Homo sapiens: one gene and its partner. The protein of the gene in region 1 interacts with the protein of each later gene in a biochemical or structural test. Each region holds a gene or a part of one and is shown on either strand. Other genes may lie near its edges.

Region 1 (3,500 bases):
CAGGAGAATTCCCTGAACCTGGGAGGCGGAGGTTGCAGTGAGCCGAGATCGTACCACTGCACTCCAACCTGGGTGACAAGAGTGAGACTTCATCTTTGCGGGGAAAAACAAAACCCACACACAAAAACTAGCTGGGCTTGGTGGCACACATCGGTAGCCCCAGCTGCTCAGGAGGCTGAGTGGGAGGATCACTTGAGCACGGGAGTTGGGGCTACAGTGAGCTACAATCGCACCACTGCATTCCAGCCTGGGGGACAGAGCAAGGCTGTATCTCAAAAATTTTTTTGACCAGGTGCGGTGGCTCACATCTGTAATCTCTGCACTTTGGGAGGCTGAGGCAGGTGGATCACCTGAGGTCAGGAGTTTGAGGCCAGCCTGGACAACATGGTGAAAGCCTGTTTCTACTAAAAATACAAAAATTAGCCGGGTGTGGTGGCGGGTGCCTGTAATCGTAGCTACCTGGGAGGCTGACTGGAGAATTGTGTGAGCCTGGGAGGCTGAGACTGCAGTGAGCTGAGATTGCTTCACTGCACTCCAGTCTGGGCGACAGAGTGAGACTCTGTCCGACTCTCAAGAAAAAAACAAAACTGAAAGCCACATTCCAGTATTAGAAGGCACCCGGTTGGGTGTCTGTAGCTGGCATCTCTTCTTTTCTTACAGGCACAGAAAGTAACGGGCTGTCTAGGGGGGTGGCATCTCCAATCCGCCAATCAGCTGTCGAGGGGTTTGAAGGTCGCTGACGGTGGCTGTGGTATGGGAAAGCACTCGGGATGCAGGCTGGGCTGAGGGCAGGAGGATGATGCCCGGGGCCCTCCTCTGAGGGTGTAGTCCCCGCTGGGGAGGCGAGTTTTGGTGAACAGCTGGGCTTCCGAGGATATCAGAGGATGGGGGTTTAAGGGGACACCGAAGTACGCACGGCCTCGGGGGACCTGCTTGCCAGTGTGCAGAACAGGGATGGTCACCCTCTAGTTTGCAGGGAAAGGAGCCTGGGGGGCTGAGAGCTGCCTCCAGCCTCTCATGAGGGCAAAGAAGCCCGGGGTCTCATCCTGTGGGTGCGGGACCAGCACCAGGCAGGAGCGGCGGAGCTCAGAGCCCAGAGCTGTTCCCACGCACACACCCTCTGCTCCCCGCAGCCAGCCCAGGATGGCTTCTCTCATGGATGAGAGAGACCCACAGAGGGTCCTCGGCGTGGCCTGGCACACCCGGCCTGCCCACATCCTGGTCGCAGGTGCTGGCTCCCCGGGCAGGGCCAGGCCCAGCAGCCTTATTTCCTGGGGCCTGGGTGGCAGCCTGCACCCTCCCGGTCCCAGAACCCGCTGGCATCACTCACTGTGAGCATCTTCAGGTCCGCCCGCTCCGCTGGGTTCTTGATGAGGCTGGGGGTTCCAAGAGGCAGGACCGGGAGGCGGTGGAGGAGACAAGACAGGGCAGTCAGCTGGTGGCCCCGGGGCACCCGCGTGTGGGCCGTGGTCGGAGGGGGCCTGGATCTCTCCGACCAGAGAGAGTGGCACAGAGTGGCTGCTCTGTTCTGCCTCCTGGCAGAGGACGAGGGATCCACCTCTGCACTTTGGTGCCAGGGGCAGGACACCCCCCAGCGGGAGGGTGAGAGGGAAAGAGGGTGGGAAACCCCGCCTGGTGGGTCAGAAGCCTGGACGCAACCCCAGCTAACTGTCTAATAAAACCCCAGGCCCGGGGCAACATCGCCGGAGCGCACGCCAAGGGCCCGGGGCAACTCCGGCACCAGGAGTGCGGTGCCGTTCCACGGCGTCCCGAGCTCACACACATGGACCGGCCCTGTGGGCAGCGGGGTGTCCGCAGCTCCTTCCCCGTGGTCTGCGGCACATGCCTGTGAAGCCCACGCCACAGGTGCTGCTGGGTGCTTGGGGGCAGGAGAATGGAGTGGGGCTGGCGACCCTCCCAGAACCTGCGGGCGGATCCCGGGGAGCCCACAGTCAGCACACCAGGGGTCCGGGGACCAGACAGAGGCTTCTCCTGCTGCAGACAGTGAGCTGGGGACACCGTCATGTGCACAGGGCCTGCAATCCTGCTTCACCCCTGGGCTCACGGACAGGATGGCATGGCAGCCGGGAGCTGCAGCCCCACAGCTCTGGGAAAAGGAATCTGGCTTCCCGTTGGGCTGAGTCCTGCCTAACGCTGCACTGGGATTCTGGATGGGCAGGCTGGGCCACGGGCCCCACCCAGGACCCGGAAGGAGTGGCACATCTGGGTCCCGGCCAGGGGTGTGGGCAGCCCGGCTCCACCTACCATTTATTGACAAACTCCTGGAAGTCGGGGGTGAACACACCGTTGGGCAGCTTAGGAGGTGGCTGTGGAGGAGAACAGAGGGTGGGGTCAGCCCTGGGCATCGTCAGGGACCCTCGGCTGCAGCCCTCTCTACCCCTCACTGTCCTGTCCGGTCACCCACCCTGCAGGCCTGGCCGACACCACATGCCAACTGGGCTGCACCCTGTCAGAGGTGGCCTTCTCCCGAAAGCTCTCGTTTGAGAGTCACGGCTGCTTAGAGGGAAAGAGTGGGGTGCGTCCCCCTTTTATCAACAGGACAACCTCTCGAGTGTCGTCACTTGCTTCCTTCCCCAGTGTCACTGGCTGAAGGATGAGCTTTGGGACTGGGCCCCACAGAGGGACATCTGGATCCAAAGTTATTTTGTTTTGAGACAGTCTCGCTCTGTTGCCCAGGCTGGAGTGCAATGGCGTGATCTTGGCTCACTGCAGCCTCCACCTCCGGGGTTCAAGGGATTCTCCAGCCTCAGCCTCCTGAGTAGCTGGGATGACAGGTGCCCACCACTGCGCCTGGCTAATTTTTATATTTTTAGTAGAGACGGTATTTCACCAGGTTGGCCAGGCTGGTCTCGAACTCCTGACCTCAGGTGATCCACCCACTGTGGCCTCCCAAAGTGCTGGAATTACACACCTGAGCCACCGTGCCCGGCCAAACTGGGTCCACAGTTTTAAGCCCAAGCACTGGGGAGCCTGGCCTGACACACGTCCCCGGAGCGGGAGTGGCCGTGTAAGCGGTGCCAGCAGGGCAGGGGCAGGCCTTTCCCGCGCAGGGGCAGGGGCGGGAAGAGGCGGGGGAGAGGTCGGGGGATGTGCTCACTGGGCATGGGTGTGGCTGCTAGGTGCAGGGAGAGCTGGGTCACCAGGGCCACCCCACCTGGCTCCGTCATCATCTCGCCACCCAACCCCAGGCCTAGCCCAGTCTGCAGGCAGCTCAAATGCCCGTTTCTCTGCCCCAGCTCCAAAGGGCCACCAAAGACACAGAAACCCACAGAAGGCCCAGGGAGGTGGCCCGGCCTGGTCACGTGGCCAACAGGACCTTGGGGTGCAGTCCTGTGCCTCCCTGACAGCTGCAGGCCTGGAAGGAGGCCGCGTCCCTCCTTGTGCCTTGTTTTACTCATCTGGGCGGTGGAAACCCTCATACTGTGGCTCACTGGGTTGTTATGGGGACTGACGGAGCAGGAGCCACCCCGGGACCTACA
Region 2 (4,241 bases), on another chromosome or scaffold:
CCAGCTGCTCGAGAGGCTAAGGCAAGAGAATTGCTTGAACCCAGGAGACGGAGGTTGCAGTGAGCCGACACGGTGCTACTGCACTCCAGCCTCGGCAACAGTGAGACTCCATCTCAAAACAAAACAAAACAAAACAAAACAAAACAAAACAAAAACAAACAGAAAGTAAATACAATTTAAAAAATTAAAAAATAAAACCCTCCAGCAGAAAAGGTGATACATAAGGCAAAAGGCAAACAGTTGTTAAATACAGACGCTAGGTTTTAGATAGTATTCTACTAGTCTCTGCTCTGTATCTGACGTTTTTCTTCATAAAAACAACCAGAAAAATAAGAACAAGAGTTTGCTTTCGTTTCAGCAGAGTAAGAACCGGTCTTTGTCTTCCGCCAAAGATGAAGCCATCAACCTGTGGCCTGGATAGTGCCTCAGGAGCGTGGAGTGAGGGACCAGGGAGCTCAGACAGATGAGTAGGCTCCTTTGTGGAGACCTGATTTGAGCACTGGTGTGAAAAAGACCCGCGCAAGCCGACCCGTGTGCCTCCCGCCCCGCCCCCAACCCCCCGGCCCTGCACACCTACCCAGGGCCGCGGCGGATACCGCATAACCTGCCACCTCGCTGTCCCCTGAGTGTCCTCAAACCACGAAGGGTGGGAATTTTGACGCTCACCGCGAGGGCGATCATCAAACGGCCTAAACTGGGCTGAGCGGGCGGGAAGTGGGGAATGCAAGGAACCCTCCAGCTTGCTCGAACCCTCAGCCGCGAGCCGGGGTGGAGGGGCAGGGACCCTCCTTCCACCGCACCCACCTGGAAGCCGGGCGGAGCGGGGCCGAACTCCGCCGGGGGGAAGCGGCAGCACGTGCCAAGGCCACGACCCTCCTCTGCCGCCGGGAGGGCCCGGCCGCCGCAGGGGGCGGGGAGCGTGGGAGGGGACGGCGCTCACCTGGCGGCTGGGCCGGATCGCGGCGGGAGAGCGGGTAGCGGGCTCAGCTGGCCGGGGCTCAGGTGAGGGCGGCGGGCCGCGCTCCCCAGCGGGGGAGGTTTCTTGGCCGGGAAAGGTACAATTGTGTGCAGCTATTTCTGGTATGTCAAGCGGGCCGGGCGGCCGCGAGCCGGGAGGGGCGCCGCTCTCAGGGGCCCGGGAGAGGGCAGGGGCCAGGCGGGCGGGTGCGGGAAGGATGCGGGCGCGGGGGCGCATCCTCTCGGGGCGGAGCCGCGGGCTGTGCGGGAACCCCAGCGGGGCCCGGGCCGCGGCCCCTGGCGGACTGTGGCATCTCCCGGGCCAGACAGTCTGACCACAGAGGCGGCCGCGGCCGGGAGCCCGGGGAGCCAAGGGAGGGGCAGACGGAAGCGGCGACTCGGCGGGCCCCGGGAGGGCGGTGGGGTGGGCCGGGGCGGGGCCACCGCGGGGAGGACGGCGGCGGCGCTGCGACTTTTGAAGTCCAAACTGTCGTCGGGGCTGGTGCCGCGCGCTGCCGCTGGGCACCCGCTTCGCTTCCCGCGTCCTGCCTGACTGCCCGGGTCCCCGCGGGCCTTGGGTCGCTTTCAGGAGTTTAGAGAAAGCCAGGTCTTCACGTTCGTGTAGGTTCGAGACCTTAACGAACTGCAGAGCGCAACAAAGGGAACTAGAGCCCCGGCGCCTTCGCAGCCGGAGCGGAAGCCGGAGTTGTGGGAGGCCCGCGTGCCCTCCCCGCCCGTGGGGCCCAGACGCGCGGGGACAACCCCTCCCCTCCACGCATCCCGAGTCTCTCTCTCCCTCCCTTGTCCTAGCCATGGAAGGGCTGGAGGAGGCAGAGGCCAACTGCTCCGTGGCGTTCGCTGAGGCTCAGAGATGGGTGGAGGTGAGTGCCTTTCACTGCTTTCCCTTCCGCAGGTGTTGACTGCCTCGGGGCGGTCGTCGCGAGGTGACTGCAGCCCCAGTCACTCTGCACTTTAGCCTCCTTCGGCGACCCAGCCGACGTGAACAAGCTGGTTTGCTTGTGCACTTTTGGGGACTCTGCGGGTTCTGCCGCTCCTGCATCTTATGTCCCGCTTAGATTGGCGCTGCCCTAACCCCCGCCCCCCGACGGTGTCACTGGCTTCCTAGGGCAGAGGTGGGCGTTCGCCTGCCGGCATCGCGCGTCCCGGAGGAGCAGCGCAGTCCGCCCTGGCTCGCCCGGGGCGTCTCTGCGGGGCACAGCCCAGAGCGCGCGGTGCAGAGCTGGGCCAGGGCTCTCGGGTGCATTCCCTCGGGGTGCCTAGAAGTGGGGATGCTCACCTTATACCTGAGAAGCCAGTGTATTCAGTGTGGAGGGGGGGAGCGGAAAAGAAGGGTGGGTGGGAGGGCAGGTGGAGGAGGTAACACACCGAAGGCCCACCTGGAAGGATGATTTCTCTGGGGCCGCATCCAAGCCCAGGGGGTAGGGGCCGGGGCATGTGCTTTTTCATTTTCGGCTTTGATGAGACTGAGATCCTAGGATCATTCGCTGAAGAGCTGTTACCCTCCCAGCTGTGCCTCACAGACAAGATCTTCCATTCCCTTCTTTCACCCTGAAAAAGAGCGGGTCTCTTCATTAACGCCTTGGGGCTACATTTATCTGTAGAAGGTTAACATCAGGACTTCTAGCCGTTATTCCACTGGACGCAAAAGATGACTTTTAAAACGAGGCAAAAGTCTTCCAAGCAGATGTGAATCAGGAACAACTGCTGAAAATTGAGGCGTGCACAAGCCCTGCAGTCATTTAGGAGTTATTGATGCCACGTGCTGGTTTAGTTAACATATTTAAAACTTCGAATTAGGCTTAAAGATTATTCCACGGAAAAAACTACATGTTTAAGAATTCCAAAGCGAACGATACTTGAAAATAATGTATTTTTCCTTAAAGAAATACATGTATGTGTGTGGAAAGAAAGAATAAATTACATTTCTTACGCTAAATAAAGGAATGTGAAATGTGAGTAGCATTAACCACGGGACAGTAGGGAGGTCTAAGGAATGAGCTTTTAGTGTCTTTTTAGATTGAAACTTTGAGCTGGTCTGAAGGTGACTTAGAAAGATGTGAAGGGAGGGGCATGGGAAGTTGAGAGAAGAATAAACGCTGTATTTTGAATTGAAATGAGAGTGGAAAAATTCCAGCAATATAGTTAAGAGAAATAACTTCCCTCATTCATAAACTTTGAAAAGCCAAGACTTCCAACTGTAATTTTCCATTAGCAGTGTGTGTTCTGCATAATTTTAGAAAACAAACTTGCCATTTTGTGTTTGAGTGTTGGGGATTGAAGGAGGGAGAAGGGGAGACGTGGGGACATGTTTTGGTCATACATGGCTTCTGTGTGGAGTTTGCATCTGCGTGCTTTGTATTTGCTTCAGGAAACATGAATAGGAATGATTCCACACCCTTCCCTTTTTTTTTAGTATGCACATTTTGGAAAACGATGAATTCCTTTTTTGTCCCTGCTTGCTCATAATTATGTAGGTTTTCTCCAAGAAATTTGTATGTAATGAATGGGGGGAAAGTGTATTGTGATAAAAGATATCATTGCGCATATTACATGTGGTCTGTTTTCACTCTCATCGCAGTCTATGTAAAGGTGTTTATCAGCAATGATTTGGCACCTCTATAATGTATTTTGTTCATCGTTAGCAGAGAGCTGGATCTTCCTAAAGGTACTGTCATATCCTTTTAATATAGTTAATGAAATTAAAATTTTTTTTCATCCCACTTGGAACAAGGCAGTATGTTTGCCTTCATTGTGTATATATGAGTAATTTACATGTTCAGATACTTTTAGTATACTCTGGGCATTTGAAATGACCACAGTGTGCTCACTGTTAGGGCTATTTTGTTTCTCCAGTGTCCACATCTATCTCTCTTGTCAGCTTTGCCTTTGCCACCAAAGCACATATTTTAAAATATTGTTCTTGCCAAAAGAAGCAGGATGAATGACTCTGTCATCATCACAACCTCTTTAAGAACCCCTAATCTGAAGATAAAAGGTTGATTCCAATGTGTATTTGTAAAGTATTCTTTCCCCTGCTTGCTGATAGTCTTGCTACATTTTGCCCTATTCCTTTACACATTACTGAAATATAGGAGGGTTTTTAAGTGTATATATTGTATATGTATGTACATATATACATATGTATTATAATATATGTTCTATCTGTATTACATATATATTCGCAACTGCAGCTTTGAATACCCCAAAGTCAACTCCAATAACCTTGTAAAGTTTTGAATGATGACTGGACTCCATGTCAGCAT

Evidence for each region.
Region 2: the proteins of MAP2K2 (region 1) and LMO7 interact in a test that uses a peptide from one of them, tested with the Homo sapiens proteins (one large-scale study listed by IntAct).

What each region holds. Positions count from the first base shown.
Region 1 is NC_000019.10:4,093,123-4,096,622, forward strand, and holds part of MAP2K2 (dual specificity mitogen-activated protein kinase kinase 2), read right to left. Parts: intron 2,328-3,500; coding exon 2,266-2,327; intron 1,377-2,265; coding exon 1,331-1,376; intron 1-1,330. UniProt on the Homo sapiens protein: Catalyzes the concomitant phosphorylation of a threonine and a tyrosine residue in a Thr-Glu-Tyr sequence located in MAP kinases. Activates the ERK1 and ERK2 MAP kinases.
Region 2 is NC_000013.11:75,634,889-75,639,129, forward strand, and holds the start of LMO7 (LIM domain only protein 7), read left to right. Parts: upstream 1-1,441; 5' UTR 1,442-1,769; coding exon 1,770-1,838; intron 1,839-4,241.